Homo sapiens: one gene and its partner. The protein of the gene in region 1 purifies or fractionates together with the protein of each later gene. This does not show direct contact. Each region holds a gene or a part of one and is shown in the gene's direction. Other genes may lie near its edges.

Region 1 (5,215 bases):
TCGGTCGGCTCCCCTTACCGGGCATGCGTATTGCGGCCAGTTGGGCCTTCGCAAAGTGCTCAGGGAAGTGTAGTGTGCAGGGAAAGTAGGTCACTCCTGCTATCGCCTGGTCCGGAGGTGTTTGAGGACTACAATTCCCAGAGTGCAGAGCGGGCCCTCACCGCCCGCCTCTCCGCCTACGTTTGGGTTGAGTCGAGTTTTCCTAGCTCCTGAGGAACATGGAGTGCCCTAGAAAGGGTCTTCATAGCCGAAAGGGGCCTTGTTGTCAGACCTAAGGTTGACCGGTCTGTGTCTAGGGGGAGATGATGAGAGACTGGGCGCGGTGTTGCAGTCAGTCAGCACCAGTCCTGGAAGCCTTTCAATACACACCCGCCTGTCTGGGCCGCTGCCTCTGGGACCAGCGAGTTGGGGCGGATCCCGTGTCTCACCAAGGAGAGGAGCTGCCTGCGTTTGGCTCTCACTCCCCGGACAGCGGCAGGGCACTCGCATCCACCCGGTCTGTGACACCTGCTGGCCCCTCCACACTTAGTTGAGTCCTGTAGTCCGTCATTGTAGGACAGTTTGCACATTTAAGGCTTAGAGGTGTCTGAGTATCTTTTTGGGTTTGGGGCTCAGTGGATTCCATCACCATTATCCCTCCTTTTCCTCTTTGAAACAGAATTTTCTTTCTGAAAAACCTTCCGGCCGGGTGCGGTGGCTCACGCCTGTAATCCCAGCACTTTGGGAGGCTGAGGCGGGCAGCGGATAACCTGAGGTCGGGAGTTCGAGACTAGCCTGACCAACTTGGAGAAACCCCGTCTCTGCTAAAAATACAAAATTAGCCGGGCGTGGTGGCGCATTCCTGTAATCCCAGTTACTCGGGAGGCTGAGGCAGGAGAATCGCTTGAACCTGGGAGGCGGAGGTTGCGGTGAGCCGAGATCGCGCCATTGCACTCCAGCCTGGGCAACAAAACCGAAACTCCATCTCAAAAAAAAAAAAAAAAAAATCTTCTGGCTAGGCAGTGACTCACGCCTGTAATCCCAACACTTTGGGAGGCGGAGGCGAGCGGATCACGAGGTCAAGATTTCGAGACCAGCCTGGCCAACATGGTGAAGCCCCGTCTCTACTAAAAATACAAAAATTAGCCGGGCGTGGTCCCGCGTGCCTATAATCCCAGCTACTCGGGAGGCTGAGGCGGGAGAATTGGTTGAACCCAGGAGGCGGAGGTTGCAGTGAGCCAAGATGGCGCCATTGCACTCCAGCTCTGGGCTACAGAGCAAGACTGTCTCGAGGGGGGGAAAAAAATCTTCCTTCGCTTCTGACATTAGAGCAGGCAGACACATGCGCGCGCGTGTGACACACACACACACCTTCCTCACATTTTTATCAGAAGTTCTCTCTGGAATCTGCACTGACTGAGGCTTCTTTTGAGCTTCACGCCCCACTTCTTCCCCCGTCGTCTTTCTCCTAGGCACCTGCTCTTTAAAACACAAGTCAGCACAAGGGATCAGAATCCAGGTTTAACTTTGCTGCTGGAAGTAAACAAGTGAGGATAAAATTCTTAGTGAAATTGGACAGAATTTTGCTCTCATATTTGCCCTTTTTAATAGGTTGACAAAAGGGAGATTTTGCTATTGTTAAACACCTCACCATTTTTATTCTTCTTGCTCCCTTTTTCGCCGTTTGTGCCTACACTGGGGTTAGAAAAGATCTTAGTGTCCTCTGCAGCCACTTAAGCGAATCCCTTTACTTGTTCCCTTTATTGACAGGTAGTTATTTCTAAGCTTTCTAATCTTACCATACTTCCATAAATATTTTATATATAAGCTCTAGAATTTGTTCATAGCTTTTTAAAAAATGAACAAACTCCTCTGAATGGCCACTCCTATCTTTAGCTAAAGACAAGCCAGCACCAGTGCTTTAATCCTCTGCTCCATAAGCTTCTTGCAGTCAAAATTAGAGCCTGAGCTGATAGAGCAGAAAATCTCATTCTGGTTGTCCATCATTTTTGTAAGGTTCCACCCCACAGCCATCTGGTCCAGCCTGTTCTCTAATTAAAGAGGCAAAGGTGGCATTATATGCTTCCTTATTTGTGCGGCAACATCACTGAGGTATAAATTGGTGTGCAGCTTTAGTTGCTTATGCTGCAGAAAATGGTTAGCTAGGCAGGGCTGATGACAGTGGTTCTATTGTATTTTGGGGTGGGAGGCTTATTTCCCAATGACTTTGGCCTGCATTTAAAATGCTCTCATTTTGAGGCCGAACTGTTCAGGAGTAGTTAACTTGGAAGGCAATTATGCAGCCAGGTTTGAGGAGGCTTAGAAAGGTGTAGAAACCCTTTGCTCTCAGTGGAAATACCAAGAGGTGCATTTTAAGAGGCCATGCAGTACCTTGGGAGAAGTATCATATGTTGACTTCAGTCTGTTTTAGATTTCAAAAATACTTTGGAAACACTGTCTTTAACAACAGGTTCCATTCTAGGGAACCAGTATCAACTTTCCTCACAACTTTTTTTTCTTTTTTTTTTTTTTTTGAGGCAGAATTTCTCTCACTTTGTCATTCAGACTGGAGTCCAGTGGCATGATCTCGGCTTACTGCAAACTCTGCCTCCCAGGTTCAAGCGATTCTCTTGCCTCAGCCTACGGAGTAGTGGGATTATAGGCACCCGCAATCATGCTGGGCTAATTTTTATGGGGTTTTTTCTTTTCTTTTTTTTTTTTTTGAGAAAAATCACTCTTGCCCAGGCTGGAGTGCAGTGGCGCAATCTTGGCTCACTGCAACCTCCGCCTCCTGGGTTCAAGCAATTCTCCTGCCTCAGCCTCCTGAGTAGCTGAGGTTACAGGCGTGTGCCACCACACCCGGCTAATTTTTTATTTTTAGTAGAGACGGGGTTTCACCATGTTGGTCAGGCTGGTCTCGGACTCCTGACCTTGTGATCCACCCGCCTCAGCCTCGCAAAGTGCTGGGATTACAGGCATGAGCCACAATGCCCGGCTAATTTTTGTGTTTTTAGTAGAGATGGGGTTTCGCCACGTTGGCCAGGCTGGTCTTGAATTCCTGGCCTCAAGTGATCCACCTGCCTTGGCCTCCCGAAGTGCTGGGATTACAGGTGTGAGCCACCACACCTGGCTCTTCACAACTTTTTAGTCTGCTCCTTGTTGGACACCTCTATGGACTATGTGGCCCTTCAGACCTCTGTTCCTGAGAGAAGGCTCATGGTTCTGGTGGGTAGTTTTGTATCTGCTGATGAGCCTGATCCTCATAAACAGAAAGCCCTTTATTCTTTCTACTATTCTTACTTTTTTTTTTTTTTGAGGTAGAGTCTTGCTCTGTCACCCAGGCTAGAGTGCAATGGCACGATCTCAGCTCATTGCAACCTCCGCCTCCTGGGTTCAAGCGATTCTCCTGCCTCAGCCTCCCGAGTAGCTGGGACTACAGCTGCGTGCCACCACGCCTGGATAATTTTTGTATTTTTATAGAGATGGGGTTTCACCGTGTTAGCCAGGATGGTCTCAATCTCCTGACCTTGTGATCCACTCGCCACGGCCTCCCAAAGTGCTGGGATTACAGGCGTGAGTCACCGTGCCCGGCCTCTACTATCCTTACTTTTTATACCCAAAAAAGCCCTGAAATTGGTCTGTATTGATCATTAATAGACATTTGAGGCTGAGGCACGTGGATCACTTGAGCGTAGGAGTTCAAGAACAGCCTGGGTGACATGGCAAAACCCCATCTCTACATAAAAATACAAAAAAAAATGAGGCTGGACATGGTGGCTCAGGCCTGTAAACCTACCACTTTGGGAGGTTGAAGCAGGTGGATCACTTGAGGCCAGGAGTTCAAGAGCAGCCTGGCCAACGTGATGAAACCCCGTGTGTACTAAAAATACAAAAATTAGCCAGGTGTGGTGGTGCATGCCTGTAATTCCAGCTACTCAGTAGGCTGAGGTGGGAGAATTGTTTGAACGTAGGAGGCAGAGGTTGCAGTGAGTCGAGATCACGCCACTGCATTCCAGCCTGGGTGACAGAGACTTCATGTCAAAAAAAAAAAAAAAAAGCCAGGTGTGGTGGTACATGCCTGTAGTCCCAGCTACTTGGAGGCTGAAGTGGGAGGATCACCTGAGCCCAGGGAGGTGGAGGCTGCAGTGAGCTGTGATCCTGCACCCTAGCTTGGGTGACAGAGTGAGACCCTGTCTCAAAAAAAGAAAAAGAGGCCAGGCGCGGTGGCTCATGCCTGTAATCCCAGCACTTTGGGAGGCTGAGGTGGGTGGATCACGAAGTCAGCAGTTCGAGACCATCCTGGCCAACATGGGGAAACCCCGTCTCTACTGAAAAAAAAAAAAATTAGCCAGGAGTGGTGGTGCACGCCTGTAATCCCAGCTACTTGGGAGACTGAGGCAGGAGAATCGCTTGAACCGGGGAGGCAGAGGTTGCAGTGAGCCGAGACCGTGCCATTGCACTCCAGCCTGGGCGACAGAGCAAGACTCCGTCTCAAAAAAAAAAAAAAAAAGAAAGAAAAAGAAAAAAATAGACATTTGAAGAAACTTAGAGATGAAGTCTGTGTTGGAGGCTGGGAAAAGAGGGAAACCAGGGTATTCTGAGTCCTGAGTGTTCTTGTGGAGGGTTTGGGAGAGGCATAGTTGTGGTACCTCTGCTGACTCCCATGTGACCTTCTCTGTTCCTCAGAACTGAAATGAGGGTTAACTAGATTCAGCCACTGTCATGCTGCTCCAGATTGACCCAGTGAGTCTTCTCTGATACATTCACCCCAGAAATCTTTTTCTGAGGATTTAGTCCCAAAAATGCCCCTTAAGGCCGTGTGTGTTGGCTCATGCCTGTAATCCCAGCACTTTGGGAGACCAAGGCAGGCGGAACACTTTAGGTTAGGAGTTTGAGACCAGCCTGGCCAACATGGTGAAACCCCATCTCCACTAAAAATACAAAAACTAGCCAGGCGTGGTGACGGGCACCTATAGTCCCAGCCATTCAGGAGGCCAAGGCACGAGAATCACTTGAACCTGGGAGGTGGAGGTTGCAGTGAGCCAAGATCACGCCACTGCAGTCCAGCCTGGGCGATAGAACGAGACTCAGTCTCCACATACATACATACATACATACATACATACATACATACATACATACATACGTAAAATTAAATTAAATTAAATGCCCCTTAAGAGCCATGGGCCCAGGCCTGAGAATTACAGGGAAATGTGTTGGGGCAGGTGTTTAGAAA
Region 2 (5,215 bases), on another chromosome or scaffold:
ACCCGGCCTTTTTTTTTTTTTTTTTTTTTTTTTTTTTTGAGAGGGAGTCTGTCTCTGTCGCCCAGGCTACAGTGCAGTGTTGGGATCTCAGCTCACTTCAACCTCTGCCTCCCAGGTTCAAGCGATTCTCCTACCTCAGCCTCCTCAGTAACTGGTATTACAGGCGTGTGCCACCATGGCCTGGCTAATTTTTGTAGTTTTAGAAAAGACGGGGTTTCACCATTTTGGTCTGGCTGGTCTCAAACTCCTGACCTTGTGATCTGCTTGCCTCGGCCTCCCCAAAGTGCTGGGATTACAGGCATGAGCCACCACACCCGGCCCAGATAGTCCCTTTTTAAACTTTAAAATTATCTCCCACCCCCATGTCCCAACAAATCAGTAATTTTCAAGCTCATGAGTGGTTGTAACTTTAAACGTTCACTAGAGATGGCTTTCTGTCTTTGTTTCAGCCCGTCTGCCGTTTAAGCGCCTGAATCTTGTCCCAAAGGGGAAAGCCGATGACATGTCAGACGATCAGGGTACTTCTGTGCAAAGTAAAAGCCCCGATTTAGAGGCCTCTTTGGACACCTTGGAAAACAACTGTCATGTGGGTTCTGACATAGACTTTAGACCGAAACTTGTCAACGGGAAGGGTCCCTTAGATAACTTTTTAAGAAATAGAATCGAAACCAGTATTGGCCAGAGCACAGTCATCATTGATTTGACAGAGGACTCGAATGAGCAGCCAGACAGTCTTGTGGACCACAATAAACTAAATTCTGAAGCCTCTCCCTCCAGGGAGGCAATAAATGGCCAGCGAGAAGACACTGGGGATCAGCAGGGGTTGTTGAAGGCCATTCAGAACGACAAGTTGGCATTTCCTGGAGAGACCCTTTCAGACATTCCTTGCAAAACAGAGGAGGAGGGTGTTGGCTGTGGAGGTGCAGGGAGGAGAGGCGACTCCCAGGAATGTTCGCCACGGAGCTGCCCGGAGCTGACGAGTGGCCCGAGAATGTGCCCCAGAAAGGAGCAGGACAGTTGGAGTGAAGCTGGGGGCATCCTGTTCAAAGGGAAGGTGCCTATGGTGGTCTTGCAGGACATCTTGGCTGTGAGACCACCGCAAATCAAGTCCCTTCCAGCCACACCCCAAGGCAAGAACATGACCCCTGAGAGTGAGGTGCTGGAATCTTTCCCCGAAGAAGACTCTGTACTCAGCCATTCGTCCCTGAGCTCTCCCTCTTCCACCAGCTCGCCCGAGGGGCCGCCTGCTCCCCCAAAGCAGCACAGCAGTACCAGTCCCTTCCCCACCTCCACGCCCCTCCGCAGAGTGAGTATCTCCCATGGAGTCCCTGCACATCAGTGCTCACGGATCTCAGAGCGCTGTCAGTCTCCACTGGGTCACCCAGGTGTTTTGTGGCAGAGTGAGCGGGGCCACGGGCTGGGTCCTGGGACTCGACGTGGAGTTCTTCCTGGTATCAAAACTCACAGTGTTCAGTTCTGCATTCGTTGTGATGCCCCTGGGACTTAATTCATCAACAGTGTACCTGGTGTACTGTGTGAATAACACCCTGCTGTTTTGCCTTCGTTGTTCACATCTAATCAGTGATAGCTTAGCCGTTTTAGGGAATTAGGATCTGAGCTGGTGCTGTAACCCCTCACTTCAGATTCGAGGTCCAGCTTTCTCTGTGCCCTTCCTGTCTAAGCATAGAAATGTAGGGACGGGGCTGCAAAGACACTGAGCACTGAAGTGGCAGTGAGACGGCAGGAAGCATGACTTGGGGAATTCTGTAGGGTCAGCACAGCCAGCCATCTTAAAAACCTTACCTGGGGCCAGGCACAGTGGCTCATGCCTGTCATCCCAGCACTTTGAGAGGCCGAGGTGGGAGGATCGCTTGAAGATCACTTCAAAACCAACCTGGGCAACATAGACACCATCTCTATGAAAAAAAATTACTTTTTTTTTTTTTTTTGACAGAGTCACTCTATCACCCAGGCTGGAGTTCAGTGGCGTGATCTCGGCTCACTGCAACCTCCACCTCCCAGGTTCAAGCGATTCTCCTGCCTCAGCATCCCTGATAGCTGGGATTACAGGTGCGCACCACCACACTTGGCTAATTTTTATATTTTTAGTAGAGACAGGGTTTCACTATCTTGGCCAGGCTGGTCTTGAATTTCTGACCTCAAGTAATCTGCCCGTCTTGGCCTCCCAAAGTGCTGGAATTATAGGCATGAGCCACTGCACCCAGCCCTGCAAAAAAATTTTTAAAAGTTATCCAGGCATGGTGGCACATGCCTGTAGTCCCAGCCACCTGGGAAACTGAGGCAGGAGGATCACTTGAGCTGAGGAGTTGGAGGCCGCAGCGAGCTATGATCACACTGCCGCGCTCCAGCCTGGGTGACAGAGCGAGACCCCATCTGGAACCATTTTTAAGGACCCCATAAGGGGGACTTTTGCATGGTCTGTCTCTGTTATTGATTTTTTATTAGCACAATGGTGTCCTTAAGGTCTTAGGGACCAAACTGATAAAATCAGTCACGAGTCCCACGGTGTTTAGTGGTGTCTTTTGATTTTATAATTTTTTACTTTTTATCTTAAGTATGTAGAACCAGAAGAGACAGTGCCTTTTTATGTTTTTGGTTTTGTAGCACTTTTGTTTGTTCATGTTGGGTCTTTATATGAGAGTAGTAGATCCTGAGATGGGTCATTTAATCTGTACCTGTAAGCAGGTACAGTAGACCACCTGGACCATAAACCACCAACCTTGTTCGCTTTCGGGATTTTGAGCTCTAAGGAACCATTTATTTATTTATTTTTGAGACAGAGTCTTGCTCTGTCACCCAGGCTGGAGTACAATGGCGCCATCTCAGCTCACTGCAACCTCCGCCTCTTGGGTTCAAGCAATTCTCCTGCCTCACCCTCTCAAGTAGCTGGGATTAGAGGCACCCGCCACCATGCCCAGCTAATTTTTGTATTTTTAGTAGAGACGGGGTTTTGCCATGATGGCCAGACTGATTTCAAACTCCTGACCTCAGGTAATCCACCCGCCTTGGCCTCCCAAGTTTCTGGGATTATAGGCGTGAGCCACTGTGCTTGGCCAAGAGCATTTATTTTTCTGAATGACTTCATTTCTTGTCTTTCACCTGAGAAGATGAAAAAGGAAAAAATGGCTTCCTCTTTAGGTTTATGAAATGTTGTAAAAATGGTGCAAATCTTTTTTTTTTTTTTTTTTTTTGAGACATGGTCTCACCCTGTCGCCCAGGCTGGAGGGCAATGGCATGGTCTCAGCCTACTGCAGCCTCCACCTTCTAGGTTCAAGCGATTTTCCTGCGTCAGCCTCTTGAGTAGCTGGGATTACAGGTGCCCACCACCACGCCTGGCTAATTTTTGTATCTTTTCAGTAGAGACGGGTTTCACCATGTTGGCCAGGCTGGCCTCAAACTTCTGACCTCAGGTGATCCGCTTGCCTCGGCCTCCCAAAGTGCTGGGATTACAGGCATGAGCCACCGCCCCAGTCTTCTACTTTGTTTTATATGTGCTGGTTTGTTATATAGGTAAACTCTTGTCGTGGGGGTTTGTTGTACAGATTATTTTATCACTCAGGTACTAAGCCTAGTACCCTCTTCTAAGTTACTAAATGTGCCAGACTGGCATGTACACATTTCAGCTTCTACCTAATCCACCACTCAATCTCCCAAAATCAGAGTTGAAGTCTCTCCCCATTGGGCATCCTGTAGTGTACATTCGATCACTTGAATTTCTTCCAGGCTGCTGCCGCTTTGCAAAATTTCGTCCTGTGATGTGAGCCATTTAGCAAGAACGGGACACATGGCTGGGCGCGGTGGCTCACACCTGCAATCCCAGCACTTTGGGACGCCGAGGCGGGTGGATCACCTAAGGTCGAGAGTTCAAGACCAGGCTGACCATTATGGAGAAACCCCGTCTCTACTAAAAATACAGAAAATTAGCTGGGTATGGTGACGCTTGCCTGTAATCCCAGCTACGCCGGAGGCTGAGGCGGGAGAACCGCTTGAACCCAGGAGGCAGAGGTTGCGGTGGCCTGAGATCGTGCCATTGCACTCCAGCCTGGGTAACAAGAACAAAACTCCGTCTCAAGAAAAAAAAAAAGGACAGGACACAAGCACATGTTTCCATTAAGTTTGTTTCCATGTCCACAGCTTAGTCTGCAAACTGGGAAGTCCCCTCGTTGGGCATCATGGTGGCACAATCCTGCCCGCTTTCTAAAACAACTGAGCACATGAACCCAGTGTGCAACATTTAGGAAACCCTGCATTTAGGACGCTAGATCTTGTTCTGAACACAGACTCGAGGTTTTGGGATGCACTTGAAGGCAATATTATCCCAACTTTTCAGATAATTTACAAGTGGTAAAGGCTTCAGGCTGGCCCAGAGCCTATGGCAGAAAGCGGCCACAACCACCCGCAGAGGGCCTGTCAGTCACCGAAGCTATGAGGGAAGCGATTATCGGGAGGCCTCCTCATGCCCTGATGGCAGGGATCCCTGAGATCCCAGCTGAGAGAGACTCCATCCCCAACCCCTACTTTATCTCCGAACCTTTAAGGAGTCCTGCATTTCTGGTTTGGTTGGTTTGCTTGCTTCATAGTTGGTACCTAACTCTTTTTTATTTTTTATTTTTTTTGAGGCGGAATCTCACTCTTTTGCCCAGGTTGGAGTGCAATGGCGTGATCTTGGCTCCTGCAACCGCTGCCTCCTGGGTTCAAGCAATTCTCCTGTCTCAACCTCCCAAGTAGCTGGGATTACAGGCACGCGCCACCAGGCCCAGCTAATTTTTGTATTTTTAGTGGAGATGGGGTTTCACCGTGTTGGACAGGCTGGTCTCGAACTCCTGACCTCGTGATCCGCCCGCCTCGGCCTCCCAAAGTGCTGGGATTACAGGTGTGAGCCACCGCGCCTGGCCAGTTGGTACCTAACTCTTAACACCTTTCCTTGCCGTGACGTCCAAGCCACCCCCTTCCCACAACCCCTGTTCCTCTGGGGAATACACTGTTTTTGCACTTTACCTCCCTACCAGCAGCTCTTTCCAGATTGCAGGGGCGAGCTGGTGGGAAGCTTGCAGATTGTTTCGCACTGCCGTGTAATCTGTGTGCTTGTCACTGGGGTCTGTTCTTCCTTGAGTTGGTACAGTGAAATATGCATTGAGAGTCCCAGGGCAGTCATTGCCACTGTACTTTGTGGGCTGGCTTGCCTTCTTTATTA

Evidence for each region. Proteins that work in one complex are often made in the same cells at the same time.
Region 2: the proteins of TOB2 (region 1) and CHAF1A purify together in Homo sapiens (affinity purification with western blotting, with the first as the bait; one study listed by BioGRID). This does not show direct contact.

The regions. Positions count from the first base shown.
Region 1 is NC_000022.11:41,439,393-41,444,607, reverse strand, and holds part of TOB2 (protein Tob2), read left to right. Parts: exon of another isoform or gene 1-496; intron 497-5,215. UniProt on the Homo sapiens protein: Anti-proliferative protein inhibits cell cycle progression from the G0/G1 to S phases.
Region 2 is NC_000019.10:4,408,454-4,413,668, forward strand, and holds part of CHAF1A (chromatin assembly factor 1 subunit A), read left to right. Parts: intron 1-449; coding exon 450-1,306; intron 1,307-2,051; exon of another isoform or gene 2,052-2,070; intron 2,071-5,215. UniProt on the Homo sapiens protein: Acts as a component of the histone chaperone complex chromatin assembly factor 1 (CAF-1), which assembles histone octamers onto DNA during replication and repair.